Linked DNA regions of Homo sapiens. The protein of the gene in region 1 interacts with the protein of each later gene in a biochemical or structural test. Each region holds a gene or a part of one and is shown on either strand. Other genes may lie near its edges.

Evidence for each region.
Region 2: the proteins of BNIPL (region 1) and MIF form a complex in vitro, tested with the Homo sapiens proteins (one study listed by BioGRID).

Annotation. Positions count from the first base shown.
Region 1 is NC_000001.11:151,031,743-151,039,590, forward strand, and holds the start of BNIPL (bcl-2/adenovirus E1B 19 kDa-interacting protein 2-like protein), read left to right. Parts: upstream 1-4,843; 5' UTR 4,844-4,983; coding exon 4,984-5,024; intron 5,025-5,572; exon of another isoform or gene 5,573-5,824; coding exon 5,825-5,920; intron 5,921-6,003; exon of another isoform or gene 6,004-6,761; coding exon 6,762-6,826; intron 6,827-7,053; coding exon 7,054-7,284; intron 7,285-7,848. Other genes in the region: exopolyphosphatase PRUNE1, read left to right, coding at 2,064-2,492. UniProt on the Homo sapiens protein: May be a bridge molecule between BCL2 and ARHGAP1/CDC42 in promoting cell death.
Region 2 is NC_000022.11:23,889,919-23,895,723, forward strand, and holds MIF (macrophage migration inhibitory factor), read left to right. Parts: upstream 1-4,464; 5' UTR 4,465-4,556; coding exon 4,557-4,664; exon of another isoform or gene 4,665-4,853; coding exon 4,854-5,026; exon of another isoform or gene 5,027-5,121; coding exon 5,122-5,188; 3' UTR 5,189-5,305; downstream 5,306-5,805.

The DNA of each region.
Region 1 (7,848 bases):
CCTCTAGATAAATTCTAGTTCCATCCTAGTTCAAGTTCTTGAGCACATTTATACACTTGGAAACGACACTAGATTAGAAGCTGGGGTTCCTCGGTTCTGGTTTAACTGCCATCATCTGCATGATTTTACTCACAACCATCTTACTTCGCTTTAGTTACTTTAATAATAAAATGAAATATACAATCTAAACTGTTTCCTCTGTTTTTAAAATACTGTGTATGGCTGGGTATGGTAGCTCATGCCTGTAATCCCAGAACTTTGGGAGGCTGAGCTGGGCAGATCACCTGAGCTCAGGAGTTTGAGACCAGCCTGGCCAATATGGCGAAACCCCGTCTCTACTAAAAATACAAAAATTAGCTGGGCATGATGGCAGGTGCCTGTAATCCCAGCTACTCAGGAGGCTGAAGCAAGAGAATTGCTTGAATCTGGGAGGCGAAGGTTGCAGTGAGCTAAGATCGTGCCACTGTACTCCAGCCTGGGTAACAGAGCAAGAATCCATTTCAAAAAAAAAAAAATTAAAGTAAAATAAAATAAATAAAACACTGTGTATGAATCCCAGCACTTTCGGAGGCTGAAGCAGGAGGATTGCTTGAGACCAGGATTTGGAGACCAGCCTGGGCAACATAGCAAGACCCCATCCCTAGTCTATTAAATAAAAAATACAAAATACTAAAATAAAATACTGTGGGCCAGGCTTGGTGGCTCACACCTGTAATCCTAGCACTTTGGGAGGCCGAGGCGAGAGCGGATGACCTGAGGGCAGGAGTTCGAGACCAGCCTGGCTAACATGGTGTAACCCCGTCTCCACTAAAAATACAAACATTAGCCAGGCTGGGTGACACATGCCTGTAGTCCCAGCTACATGGGAGGCTGAGGCAGGAGATTCACTTGAACCGGGGAGGCAGAGGTTGTACTGAACTGAGATTGCACCACTGCACTCCAGCCTGGGCGACAGAGCAAGACTCTGTCTCAAAAAAAAAAAAAAATACTGTGTATATTAGTGTTCCTTCTGTTGCAAACAATAAAACCGAACTCTGGACAACTTACTTTTTTTCTTGTCTTGCTTTATTGCCCAGGCTGGAGTGCAATGGTGAGATCTCGGCTCACTGCAACCTCCGCCTCCCAGGTTCAAATGATTCTCCTATCTCAGCCTCCCAAGTAGCTGGGATTACAGGTGTGAACCACCATGTCTGGCTAATTTTTGTATTTTTCGTAGAGATGGGGTTTCAGCATGTTGACAAGGCTGTTCTCGAATTCCTGACCTCAGGTGATCCGCCCACCTTGGCCTCCCAAAGTGCTGGGATTACAGGCGTGAGCCACTGTGCCCGGCCTCAAGGATAACTTACTTTTTTTTTTTTTTGAGACGGAGTTTCGCTCTTGTTGCCCAGGCTGGAGTGCAGTGGCACCATCTTGGCTCACTGCAACTTCTGTCTCCTGGGTTCAAGTGATTCTCCTGCCTCAGCCTCCCAAGTAGCTGGGATTACAGGCATGCGCCATCATGCCTGGCTAATTTTGTATTTTTAGTAGAGATGGGGTTTCTCCATGATGGTCAGGCTGGTCTCAAACTCCCGACCTCAGGTGATCGGCCCCCTTTAGCCTCCCAAAGTGCTGGGATTACAGGCGTGAGCCACCGCGCCCGGCTGACTTACTTTTTTTTTTTTTTTTTGAGATGCAGTGTTGCTCTGTCGCCCAGGCTGGAGTGCAGTGGCGCGATCTCCGCTCACTGCAAGCTCCGCCTCCTGGGTTCACGCCATTCTCCTGCCTCAGCCTCCCGAGTAGCTGGGACTACAGGCACCCGCCACCATGCCCGGCTAATTTTTTGTATTTTTAGTAGAGACGGGGTTTCACTGTGTTAGCCAGGATGGTCTCAATCTCCTGACCTCATGATCCACCCGCCTCGGCCTCCCAAAGTGCTGGGATTGCAAGCGTGAGCCACCGCACCCCGCCCGGCCGACTTACTTTTTAAAAGCTTCCTCTTCTATAGAGGAAGCCTCTCACTTAGAAGCCCAGCACTTTGCTACAGCAAGTTGTGTATCATTTCCCTGTTATTGTCTCCTCTTTAGATCTGTGAAGTCCTGGAACGCTCCCACTCTCCACCCCTGAAGCTGACCCCTGCCTCAAGTACCCACCCTAACCTCCATGCCTATCTTCAAGGCAACACCCAGGTCTCTCGAAAGAAACTTCTGCCCCTGCTCCAGGAAGCCCTGTCAGCATATTTTGACTCCATGAAGATCCCTTCAGGACAGCCTGAGACAGCAGATGTGTCCAGGGAGCAAGTGGACAAGGAATTGGACAGGGCAAGTAACTCCCTGATTTCTGGCCTGAGTCAAGATGAGGAGGACCCTCCGCTGCCCCCGACGCCCATGAACAGCTTGGTGGATGAGTGCCCTCTAGATCAGGGGCTGCCTAAACTCTCTGCTGAGGCCGTCTTCGAGAAGTGCAGTCAGATCTCACTGTCACAGTCTACCACAGCCTCCCTGTCCAAGAAGTGACTGTTGAGAGGCGAGGAGGTAGTGGGTGAGGCTACCTGACTCACTTCAAATGCATGTTTTGAGATGTTTGGAGATTCAGCAATTCTGTCTTCATTGCTCCAGGATCTGGTATACTGTTCTCATAAAACTGAGAGGAGAAAAAAAGTGAAAGAAAGCAGCTGCTTTAAGAATGGTTTTCCACCTTTTCCCCCTAATCTCTACCAATCAGACACATTTTATTATTTAAATCTGCACCTCTCTCTATTTTATTTGCCAGGGGCACGATGTGACATATCTGCAGTCCCAGCACAGTGGGACAAAAAGAATTTAGACCCCAAAAGTGTCCTCGGCATGGATCTTGAACAGAACCAGTATCTGTCATGGAACTGAACATTCATCGATGGTCTCCATGTATTCATTTATTCACTTGTTCATTCAAGTATTTATTGAATACCTGCCTCAAGCTAGAGAGAAAAGAGAGTGCGCTTTGGAAATTTATTCCAGTTTTCAGCCTACAGCAGATTATCAGCTCGGTGACTTTTCTTTCTGCCACCATTTAGGTGATGGTGTTTGATTCAGAGATGGCTGAATTTCTATTCTTAGCTTATTGTGACTGTTTCAGATCTAGTTTGGGAACAGATTAGAGGCCATTGTCTTCTGTCCTGATCAGGTGGCCTGGCTGTTTCTTTGGATCCCTCTGTCCCAGAGCCACCCAGAACCCTGACTCTTGAGAATCAAGAAAACACCCAGAAAGGCCTTAATGACCTCATAGGCACTCTTCCAAAAAGACAACAGAACTGGAATGAGAGGCCTGGGTCTGTCTCCTGCCTTAGCAGGCCTATCAATTTCTTGTCAATCTCTTTTTTTCCTTGCTCACATTAAAAGGAAGCATGGAGTTCTAATGCTCCCATAAACTATGTATTTTGGCAAGACACTTCACTACTCCAGGTCTCACTTTCCCCATCTGTAAAACAGGGTTTGGACTAGGTGTTCCCTGGTATTCTGTGATCTGCCTCTTGCTGCCATTCTTTCTCTCCTCTGCTTCTCTGTATTTTTCTTCTGTTATCCCTGGGGGTGCTCAGGTTCACTTGATTGTCTGTATTTCTGTGTGGTTGTAGCAAGGACTCAGCCTCATGTAGCACGAATAGGGGTGTGGTTCATGGCGTGTTGACCCAGCAGAGCACTCCCTCCCACTAACTTGTTCTGCATGTGTAGAGTCTCCCCATTTTTTTTAACGCAACCCTTTCCCCTTTTTCCTACCCCACAGCTCTGTTCCATGTAAGTTGCCAACAGTTTCACTGAACAGTGGGGTATGTGATGGTTTTGGCATGACATCTTCAGTATGAGGGGGACAGTTTGACTTCACTTTGAGGGTGTGATGTCTGTAGCTATGTGGAAGGTAAAAATAGTGGTGTGATCATGAACCAAAGGAATTTATGTTTTGTAACTTGGGTACTTTATTTTGCATTTTGTTATACTATTAAATAATTTTTTCCTGTTTGGGGGTCTTACTGTCTTTTTTTACAAGTGTATTCAGGCCTTTCTCTGTGATAGTTGTTTCAGTCTCCTCAAAATTGATCCCCCTTCTTCCTACTATACTTAATGTCTTCTTTCTGTTGACTCTTTTTGGGAATAAGGAGCAACAGGCTTCTGTCTCCCCTCATCCTCAGCCTCCCGTTCAACTTGTTTATTCTCCCAGAAACCTCCTTATAACATACTTCCGTTTCCCCAGTTTTCCTTATGCTTGAAAAGTAGATCCAAGATAACAGTCCTAGAAACACACACAATGGTTTCTTTTTCTTTTTTTTTTTTTTTTTGAGATGGAGTTTTGCTCTTTTTGCCCTGGCTGGAGTGCAATGGCACAATCTCAGCCCACTACAACCTCTGCCTCCCAGGTTCAAGCGATTCTCCTGCCTCAGCCTCCCAAGTAGCTGGGATTATAGGCATGTGTCACCACGCCCAGATAATTTTTTTTTTTTTTTTTTTTTTTTTTTTTTTTTGGATTTTTAGTAGAGATGGGGTTTCTCCACATTGGTCAGGCTGGTCTCAAACTCCCGACCTCAGGTGATCCGCCTGCCTTGGCCTCCCAAAGTGTTGGGATTACAGGTGTGAGCCACCACGCCCGGCCAGAAACACAACGGTTTCTACTGGTTTTTTTGCTTATTTGTGTAAAGAGCAACTTTGAGAGGGATATATGGAGTCTGGAAAGGAGAACAAATTGCCTTCCTAGACTCAACCGAGACTGGCCCCCACTAGAAAATGCACTCTCCTCCCCAAAACCCGCCCCCTCACAGGAGGCAGGGTTTTTCTTTTGGGCAAACCTGCTCCTGGGGAGAGGAGTGGCAAAACCTGTTTTGAAGATGAGGTTACCTCCCTTCCACACCTCCCTCCTTGGAGGCAAGAGCTACAACAGCTGAGACAGAAAAGAGGTAAGGAAGTGTTGGGGGCTGGGACAACCAGCTCCCCAACAACTCCTAGGTGTTTAAAGAAGGAGGCAGGAAGACTTGTGAAGATGGGAACTATACAAGAGGCAGGAAAAAAGACAGATGTTGGGTAAGTAAGATCTTGGCTCACTTGATTGGTAACAGTGAATAAACAGTCCGGAGAGACTTCCCCACCACCCAGCTCTTACTGGGTCAAATCTCGGGTTCCTCAAGGAGACAAGACTGTAAGAGAGTTTGCAGAGAAGAGATGAGGGTGGTTTTAGGTAGGAAATGTCAGTATGGTATGGAACTGGGGAACAGGATTCCAGGATAATTCCCTGGTTTAAAAATAAAGGAAGTTTCTGTAATATGTTGTACCTGATAAATCTGCCTGTGTTCTTTTATTTTCTAACCCTCACCCTCCAGAATGGCCATCAGGAAAGCTGAACCAGAACCGAGTTTAGGTCCAGGTTCTCGTTCTGGCAAATCTTTCTCCTTACCTTCTTCCTCCACCCCTCCACTTATGCCATGTTTTCCCTTAGCCACTCCCCAGCTCGGTGGAGGAAAGGCAGGCCTAACTAGGTACCGTCTTCCCGACTTTGCTCAATGATAGCTGGGTGGGTCTAGCTGGGTTCCAGCCACTTGTAATGTGGGACATCTCTCACCCCAACTTTGTAGGTGGAGCAACTGCTACAGAGGTAAATATGATTAACTTTACATTCCATCTTTCGTCTGCTCCCAAACTTAACAGCAGGTAATCTGCTTCTAGCAAGTGGTGAAGGTAAGAGAAGCATCTGTATAGGAGGCAAGAGATCTGAGTCCTTTTGAAGGCCTATCCTCTGCTCTGTATCTCAATTACTGTTCTTCATTTCAATTATTCTTACCTACTATTCAGTTCCCTTGATCTTTTCTTCTTGGGGGCTGTCTTAGGGTCAGGGAGATTGCAGAAGCACCAGAACTAGGAGCAGCCCTGAGACATGGGGAGTTGGAGCTGAAGGAGGAATGGCAGGATGAAGAATTCCCTAGGTGAGGACGTGTGAGGGTGGCTGGGAGAAGGGAGGGGTGGTCACGAATGGACGGAGGGGATGGCGCGGCGGCTCATGGCTGTAATCCCAGCACTTTGGGTGGCCGAGGCGGGTGGATCACCTGAGGTCAGGAGTTTGAGACCAGCCTGACCAACACGGTGAAATCCCGTCTCTACTAAAAATACAAAATTAGCCAGGTGTGGTGGCACATGCCTGTAATCCCAGCTACTCGGGAGGCTGAGGCAGGAGAATCACTTGAACCTGGGAGGCAGAGGTTGTAGTGAGCTGAGATTGTGCCATTACACCCGAGCTTGGGCAACAAGAGTGAAACTCTGTCTCAAAAAAAAAAAAAAAAAAAAAAAAAAAAAGCAAATGGACACAGGGATGGTGAATTAGGACTTGAAGGAAAAAAATGGGAAAAAGAAAACAGAGGCCGGGCGTGGTGGCTGATGCCTGTAATCCCAGCACTTTGGGAGGCCGAGGCAGGTGGATCACTTGAGCTCAGAAGTTCAAGACTACTCTGGGCAACATGGCATAACCCCATCTCTACAAAAATACAAAATTTAGCCAAGTGTGGTGGTGCACACCTGTAGGCCCAGCTACTCGGGAGGCTGAGGTGGGAGGACCGCTTGAACCCTGGAGGTAGAGGCTGCAGTGAGCTGTGATTGTGCCACTGCATTCCAGCCTGGGCAACAGAGTGAGACCCTGTCTCAAAAAAACAATTAAAAAAAAAAGCAGCATAGGTGATAAAATCATGGTGGGGAGAGAGAACCTATATATTGAGTCCTGGCTTGATGCCTTTGGTGTATATGTCTGCCGCCTTTTAATCTCTTCCCCTCTAGATTGCTTCCTGAGGAGGCTGGCACTTCTGAAGATCCTGAAGACCCTAAAGGAGATTCACAGGCAGGTAGGTCAAGTAGAAACCAGGCCTCAAGTTCTTGATTCTAGTCCAGTAAAGGGCTATGCCACCTCTATCCTTTTACAGTTCCATTTCCCCCTTTTCCCAAATCTCCCCTGCGTGAGTCCTTCTTCAGCATTCACCCCATATTATCACTTTCACATACAGGAATTCTAGCCCTCTCGGCTCTCCAACACACACACCCATCTTGGTTCTCTTTTTCCCCCTTTCTCCAGCTGCAGGTACCCCCAGCACTTTAGCCCTGTGTGGCCAGCGCCCCATGCGCAAGCGTCTTTCTGCCCCAGAGTTGCGGCTGAGTCTGACTAAGGGGCCTGGAAATGATGGAGCTTCACCCACCCAGTCTGCACCTTCCTCTCCTGATGGCAGTTCTGACCTGGAGATAGACGAATTGGAGACACCTTCAGACTCGGAGCAGCTGGACAGTGGACATGAATTTGAATGGGAAGGTGGGAAACAAACCAGAGGACTCAGCTGGTAGAAGTAGAGGCTAGAGCTAAAGGATCAGGATGGACTTAATGGGACTGCAGTTAGAACTAATAAGGTGGGACCAAGGGCTACGGCCAGCAAAATTAGTTTCCTCAAATGGAACTTGGGCTTATAGGTCCAATGTGAGAGTAGTCAGTAGAGGGGGAGGGGAGCCCATTGTTTATTAAGGAAAATTTAATTGAATGCCTGTTACATACTATCATGTATAGGACTGGGGTTATAAAGATGAATAAGAGAGGGCCTACAGGGAATTCTCTGCTTAGTAGGAAATAAACATATATAAAAATAATTGCAGTTAAAGGTTATGATCTATATATGTGTAGGGTACAGTGTAGACAGGGAGAAGGAAAAGGTCAGTTCTGCCTGAGAGATGTTAGGAAAGGCTTCATGAAGGAGATGATTCTGAGCTAAGTGTTGAAAACTGAAGCTGACATTTATCAGGTAGTTGGAGAGAGGGCATTCTAAGGAGAAGAAGCAGAAGCAACTCAAGCAATAGCATGGCATGTTGGGGAATTCAAAGTATG
Region 2 (5,805 bases), on another chromosome or scaffold:
TTCTCTTGTATTTGTTCTCATCCTCTCCTTTCTTGGACCCTCTGAGTCTCTGGTTCCCTCTTGTTGGGACCCAGATCACTCTGTGCCTCAGCTGAATCATTTTTCCCTTCAGTTTACACATATCCACCTAGGGTCCACTACATCCAGAGGCTTCCGCCTCAGTCCTTGTCCTCAGGCTGTGCCCAGGGTTGTGAGGATGGCGGTGGTCCTTACCTTGCAAAACAGTCTCCCAGTGACAACAATGTTCAGGGATAACATCTATGGAGGGCTTTCTATGTATCAGGACCATTCTGAGTATCTTCCAAGTGTTAGCTCCTTTAATCCTGGAAAGGACCCCATGAAATTAGTACTTTTATTACCCCTGTTGTACATATGAGAGACTGAGTAAAAGCCGGTGGCTTGTCCAGGGTCACACAGCTAACTGGAATGGCCAGGAGTAGACCTGGTGACCATGGACCCCAGACCTTGATCACTGCACACGCTGCGTCTGGGACCTCGCCTGGTACCTGAGGTCCGTGGCGCGCTGGTGCTGATCATTCAGAGTGCTCATGGGAAGTGTAGTCTAGAGTCTGTGTGCTTCCTGATCTCCTTGATCTCCATTTTATTGAGGAGGCCTTTAGGCCACCCGAGGGGTCCAGAGTGACCCTGTGGATTAGCAGTGGAGCTCAGCTTGAGCCAGCGCTCTTCAGGGGTCGTGTTCTGCCCCCATTCTCTGGTTCATTCTGCAGGTAGCAGGGAATCATTGAAGATTAGAGAGAATCAAACACCTGGAGAGAGATGACTCTGCCCGGGGAGCCCAGGCTCCTGTCTGGGTGCACACTCCAGGGCTAGATGGTGACTTCTCAGCTACTCTAGCTTCATAGGCTCATAGTGCATGTGAGCACTCATGTGGACACACGTGCACGCGCACACACATGGACACACACACACACACACACACCGCTGTCTTTGGAATCAGACCATGAAAATGCTTCCTCAGAGGCCTAGGGGTGAGGAAGCTGAGGTGAGTTGTGCCTCCAGCTGGATGTGCTGGGATGGGGTGGGAGATGAGGTGGCCACACCTGGGTGGCAGGAACTCTGGGGCAGTGAACCTTCTAACGAACAGATCTGGGATGCTGCCATGAGGAGGAAGAGGGAGTCAGCAGCCATGCCTGCCAATGCCTCCTAGCGCATTTGTCCATGGTTAGCGGATAATTATTGTGTCCCTATGGGTCCCAAGGTGTATTATTTTTTTTTTGCTCTTATAATAAATCAACACAAATTTTTAGCAGCTTCAAACAACACGCATTTATTATCTCACAGTTTCTGTGGGTCAGTAGTCCGGCGTGACATGACTAGGTCTTCTGTGTAAGGACTCGCATGGCCAAAGTCAAGGTATCTGAAGGGACAAGGGAAAAATCCACTTCCAAGTTCAATCTGGTTGTGAGCAGAATTCAGTTCCTTGTGGTTGTACCATGAGGTCTCTGGTCCCCTTCATCTTCAAAGCCGGTAATGGACATCGAGTGTTTCTCTTGCTTGGAATCTGGCACTCTAGCTGGAGAAAATTATCTGCTTTTAAGAGTTCATGTGATTAGATTGGGTGTACCCAGATGCTCCATGCTAATCTCCCTATTATGCACAGATGCATAATCCTAATTGCATCTGTGAAGTGCTTTTTGCCAGGTAACATGGCATACTTGTAGGTTCCAGGGATTAGTGCTTGTCCTCCCCCTGCTATTCTTTAGTGGGCAGGGGGTCATCTGCCTACCACGGAGGTAAGGGGTCAGGAGGTATGCATACAGCAATGCCCAAAAAGAGACTGTCCCCACTGGGATGGAGTTTACCGCCTAGACATGCAGTCTTAACTCAGAAATATGGAGATAGCCTCGAAGGACAGGACAGGTACTGGGCACGTGTGGGAATGGACCAAGCCAGGTGCTCCGGGGGCTTTCCCAAGGAACTAAGGCTGAGCCAAGAACTGAAGGATGAGTTGGAGTCAGATGAGGGAAAATGTGGGCAAACTGGATTTCAGAACCAACCCCCAACCCTGGAGCCAGGAGCCATGGTACTGAAGGACAGTGCGCCATAACTCAGAGAACCAGGGAGGGTTGGCGGAGGCTCACAGGGACCGGGTTACCCCAGGGCCTTGTGACAGTACTACCCCTAGTATCAGAGGAGACTGTCATTGGCATTTAGGCCACTTGGTGCTCATAACACCTCTATGTCAGGTGAACACTATTGTCATCCCCAAATTACAGATGGGGAAAGTGAGCCAAATGTCCATGCTAGTAAGAGGCAAATCATATCACTTCTTTGGGTACCCTTCTAGAAGGATGAGGCTGACTGCCACTGGAAACAGCTGGGGAGGGTACAAGGAGATGACAAGTGGCTCAGAGGCTGTCCTGGCTATAAGAATTAAAGAGGAAAGAAACACCAAGGGTGGCTCGACAGTCAACAAGGACAGGTTTATTTTGGAAAACAAACTTGAGAGGGGCTTCTGGCCAAGTTAGGTCAGAGCCACACTCTCTTACAAACTAAGGATATTTAAGGGTTTTGGAGGGGGTTCTTATCATAGGTTCTGAATGTTTCTGTGTGAGGGAAAGTTTATTGCGGGGATGGAATGTCTCTGGTCAGAAGGGAGGCTGTCTCCGGGTTGGCATGTTTCTGGTCAGAGAAGGGTTTATCTTAGGGTTGGAATGTTTCTGGTTATGCTGACATTAGCTATTAGGCTGATATTTTCGGGCTGGATTTAGGCGGCTTTTAATTAAGGGGGAACTTAGAATGGTGGTGTTTGTTCAAGATGGCAATGCTCCTGCTCCGTCACTGGCCAGGTAAGGCAACCCTTTGTTATGGTAACAACCTGAGATTGGCAGGGGCTCACCTCCAGGGGCAGCTCATGTGCTTGCTGGCGAGGCTGCACCTTGTCATTCAGGTTCACAGGGCACAGGTCAACCAGGCCCTGGCTCTTCAGTCTTCTGCCTGGAGTGACTTATGTAATTCTGCTCAGCTTTCATAGGGCACAGGGAGTCGGGGCTAACTCTGCTGCCTGGGGCTGGAAACAGACTCCTCCCTTGAGGAGCAGCAGTCCACCATAGGGAAGTCACAGTGGTCCAGGCCAAAGGGGATGCAGGTAGTGTAGACTAGGCGGTAGTTCAGGGAATGGAGAGAAGTGGGAATAAAGGGATAGTGAAAGGAAGCATATTTTACTGGCAGGTGATGAGGTGTAGGAGGACAAGTCATACATTTGGACTTTACAGAGCAGTGGACACTCAGTCAGCTGCTGTCAGCGCCTGGGACTTAGGGGAGTGCCCCTGGCTGGAGACATGGTATGGAGTGCCATCAGTTAGGGAGCCCTGGGCACAGGTAAGAGAAGGTGTGACACCAGGAGGGAAAGAGTCTGGGGCCCAGCTGCAGGAACCAATACCCATAGGCTATTTGTATAAATGGGCCATGGGGCCTCCCAGCTGGAGGCTGGCTGGTGCCACGAGGGTCCCACAGGCATGGGTGTCCTTCCTATATCACATGGCCTTCACTGAGACTGGTATATGGATTGCACCTATCAGAGACCAAGGACAGGACCTCCCTGGAAATCTCTGAGGACCTGGCCTGTGATCCAGTTGCTGCCTTGTCCTCTTCCTGCTATGTCATGGCTTATCTTCTTTCACCCATTCATTCATTCATTCATTCAGCAGTATTAGTCAATGTCTCTTGTATGCCTGGCACCTGCTAGATGGTCCCCGAGTTTACCATTAGTGGAAAAGACATTTAAGAAATTCACCAAGGGCTCTATGAGAGGCCATACACGGTGGACCTGACTAGGGTGTGGCTTCCCTGAGGAGCTGAAGTTGCCCAGAGGCCCAGAGAAGGGGAGCTGAGCACGTTTGAACCACTGAACCTGCTCTGGACCTCGCCTCCTTCCCTTCGGTGCCTCCCAGCATCCTATCCTCTTTAAAGAGCAGGGGTTCAGGGAAGTTCCCTGGATGGTGATTCGCAGGGGCAGCTCCCCTCTCACCTGCCGCGATGACTACCCCGCCCCATCTCAAACACACAAGCTCACGCATGCGGGACTGGAGCCCTTGAGGACATGTGGCCCAAAGACAGGAGGTACAGGGGCTCAGTGCGTGCAGTGGAATGAACTGGGCTTCATCTCTGGAAGGGTAAGGGGCCATCTTCCGGGTTCACCGCCGCATCCCCACCCCCGGCACAGCGCCTCCTGGCGACTAACATCGGTGACTTAGTGAAAGGACTAAGAAAGACCCGAGGCGAGGCCGGAACAGGCCGATTTCTAGCCGCCAAGTGGAGAACAGGTTGGAGCGGTGCGCCGGGCTTAGCGGCGGTTGCTGGAGGAACGGGCGGAGTCGCCCAGGGTCCTGCCCTGCGGGGGTCGAGCCGAGGCAGGCGGTGACTTCCCCACTCGGGGCGGAGCCGCAGCCTCGCGGGGGCGGGGCCTGGCGCCGGCGGTGGCGTCACAAAAGGCGGGACCACAGTGGTGTCCGAGAAGTCAGGCACGTAGCTCAGCGGCGGCCGCGGCGCGTGCGTCTGTGCCTCTGCGCGGGTCTCCTGGTCCTTCTGCCATCATGCCGATGTTCATCGTAAACACCAACGTGCCCCGCGCCTCCGTGCCGGACGGGTTCCTCTCCGAGCTCACCCAGCAGCTGGCGCAGGCCACCGGCAAGCCCCCCCAGGTTTGCCGGGAGGGGACAGGAAGAGGGGGGTGCCCACCGGACGAGGGGTTCCGCGCTGGGAGCTGGGGAGGCGACTCCTGAACGGAGCTGGGGGGCGGGGCGGGGGGAGGACGGTGGCTCGGGCCCGAAGTGGACGTTCGGGGCCCGACGAGGTCGCTGGGGCGGGCTGACCGCGCCCTTTCCTCGCAGTACATCGCGGTGCACGTGGTCCCGGACCAGCTCATGGCCTTCGGCGGCTCCAGCGAGCCGTGCGCGCTCTGCAGCCTGCACAGCATCGGCAAGATCGGCGGCGCGCAGAACCGCTCCTACAGCAAGCTGCTGTGCGGCCTGCTGGCCGAGCGCCTGCGCATCAGCCCGGACAGGTACGCGGAGTCGCGGAGGGGCGGGGGAGGGGCGGCGGCGCGCGGCCAGGCCCGGGACTGAGCCACCCGCTGAGTCCGGCCTCCTCCCCCCGCAGGGTCTACATCAACTATTACGACATGAACGCGGCCAATGTGGGCTGGAACAACTCCACCTTCGCCTAAGAGCCGCAGGGACCCACGCTGTCTGCGCTGGCTCCACCCGGGAACCCGCCGCACGCTGTGTTCTAGGCCCGCCCACCCCAACCTTCTGGTGGGGAGAAATAAACGGTTTAGAGACTAGGAGTGCCTCGGGGTTCCTTGGCTTGCGGGAGGAATTGGTGCAGAGCCGGGATATTGGGGAGCGAGGTCGGGAACGGTGTTGGGGGCGGGGGTCAGGGCCGGGTTGCTCTCCTCCGAACCTGCTGTTCGGGAGCCCTTTTGTCCAGCCTGTCCCTCCTACGCTCCTAACAGAGGAGCCCCAGTGTCTTTCCATTCTATGGCGTACGAAGGGATGAGGAGAAGTTGGCACTCTGCCCTGGGCTGCAGACTCGGGATCTAAGGCGCTCTGCCCGCCGGAATCCGTTGTACCTAGGGCCACCACGTGGGGTGCTGGAGGTGAGCCGACCACGGAAGAGGGGGAGGAGGAGTTGGAGTTGGGAGGAGTCCGAGGTCTTCTAGGCCTAGACCTTTCTCTCAGCCCCACCTTCCCCAGCCTTCTTGTTGGGCAGAGGGTAGCCAGAGGACAGAAAGATCCCACCCAGAGCCACTCACTGCCATCCACTTTGTTAGGTGACTTCAGG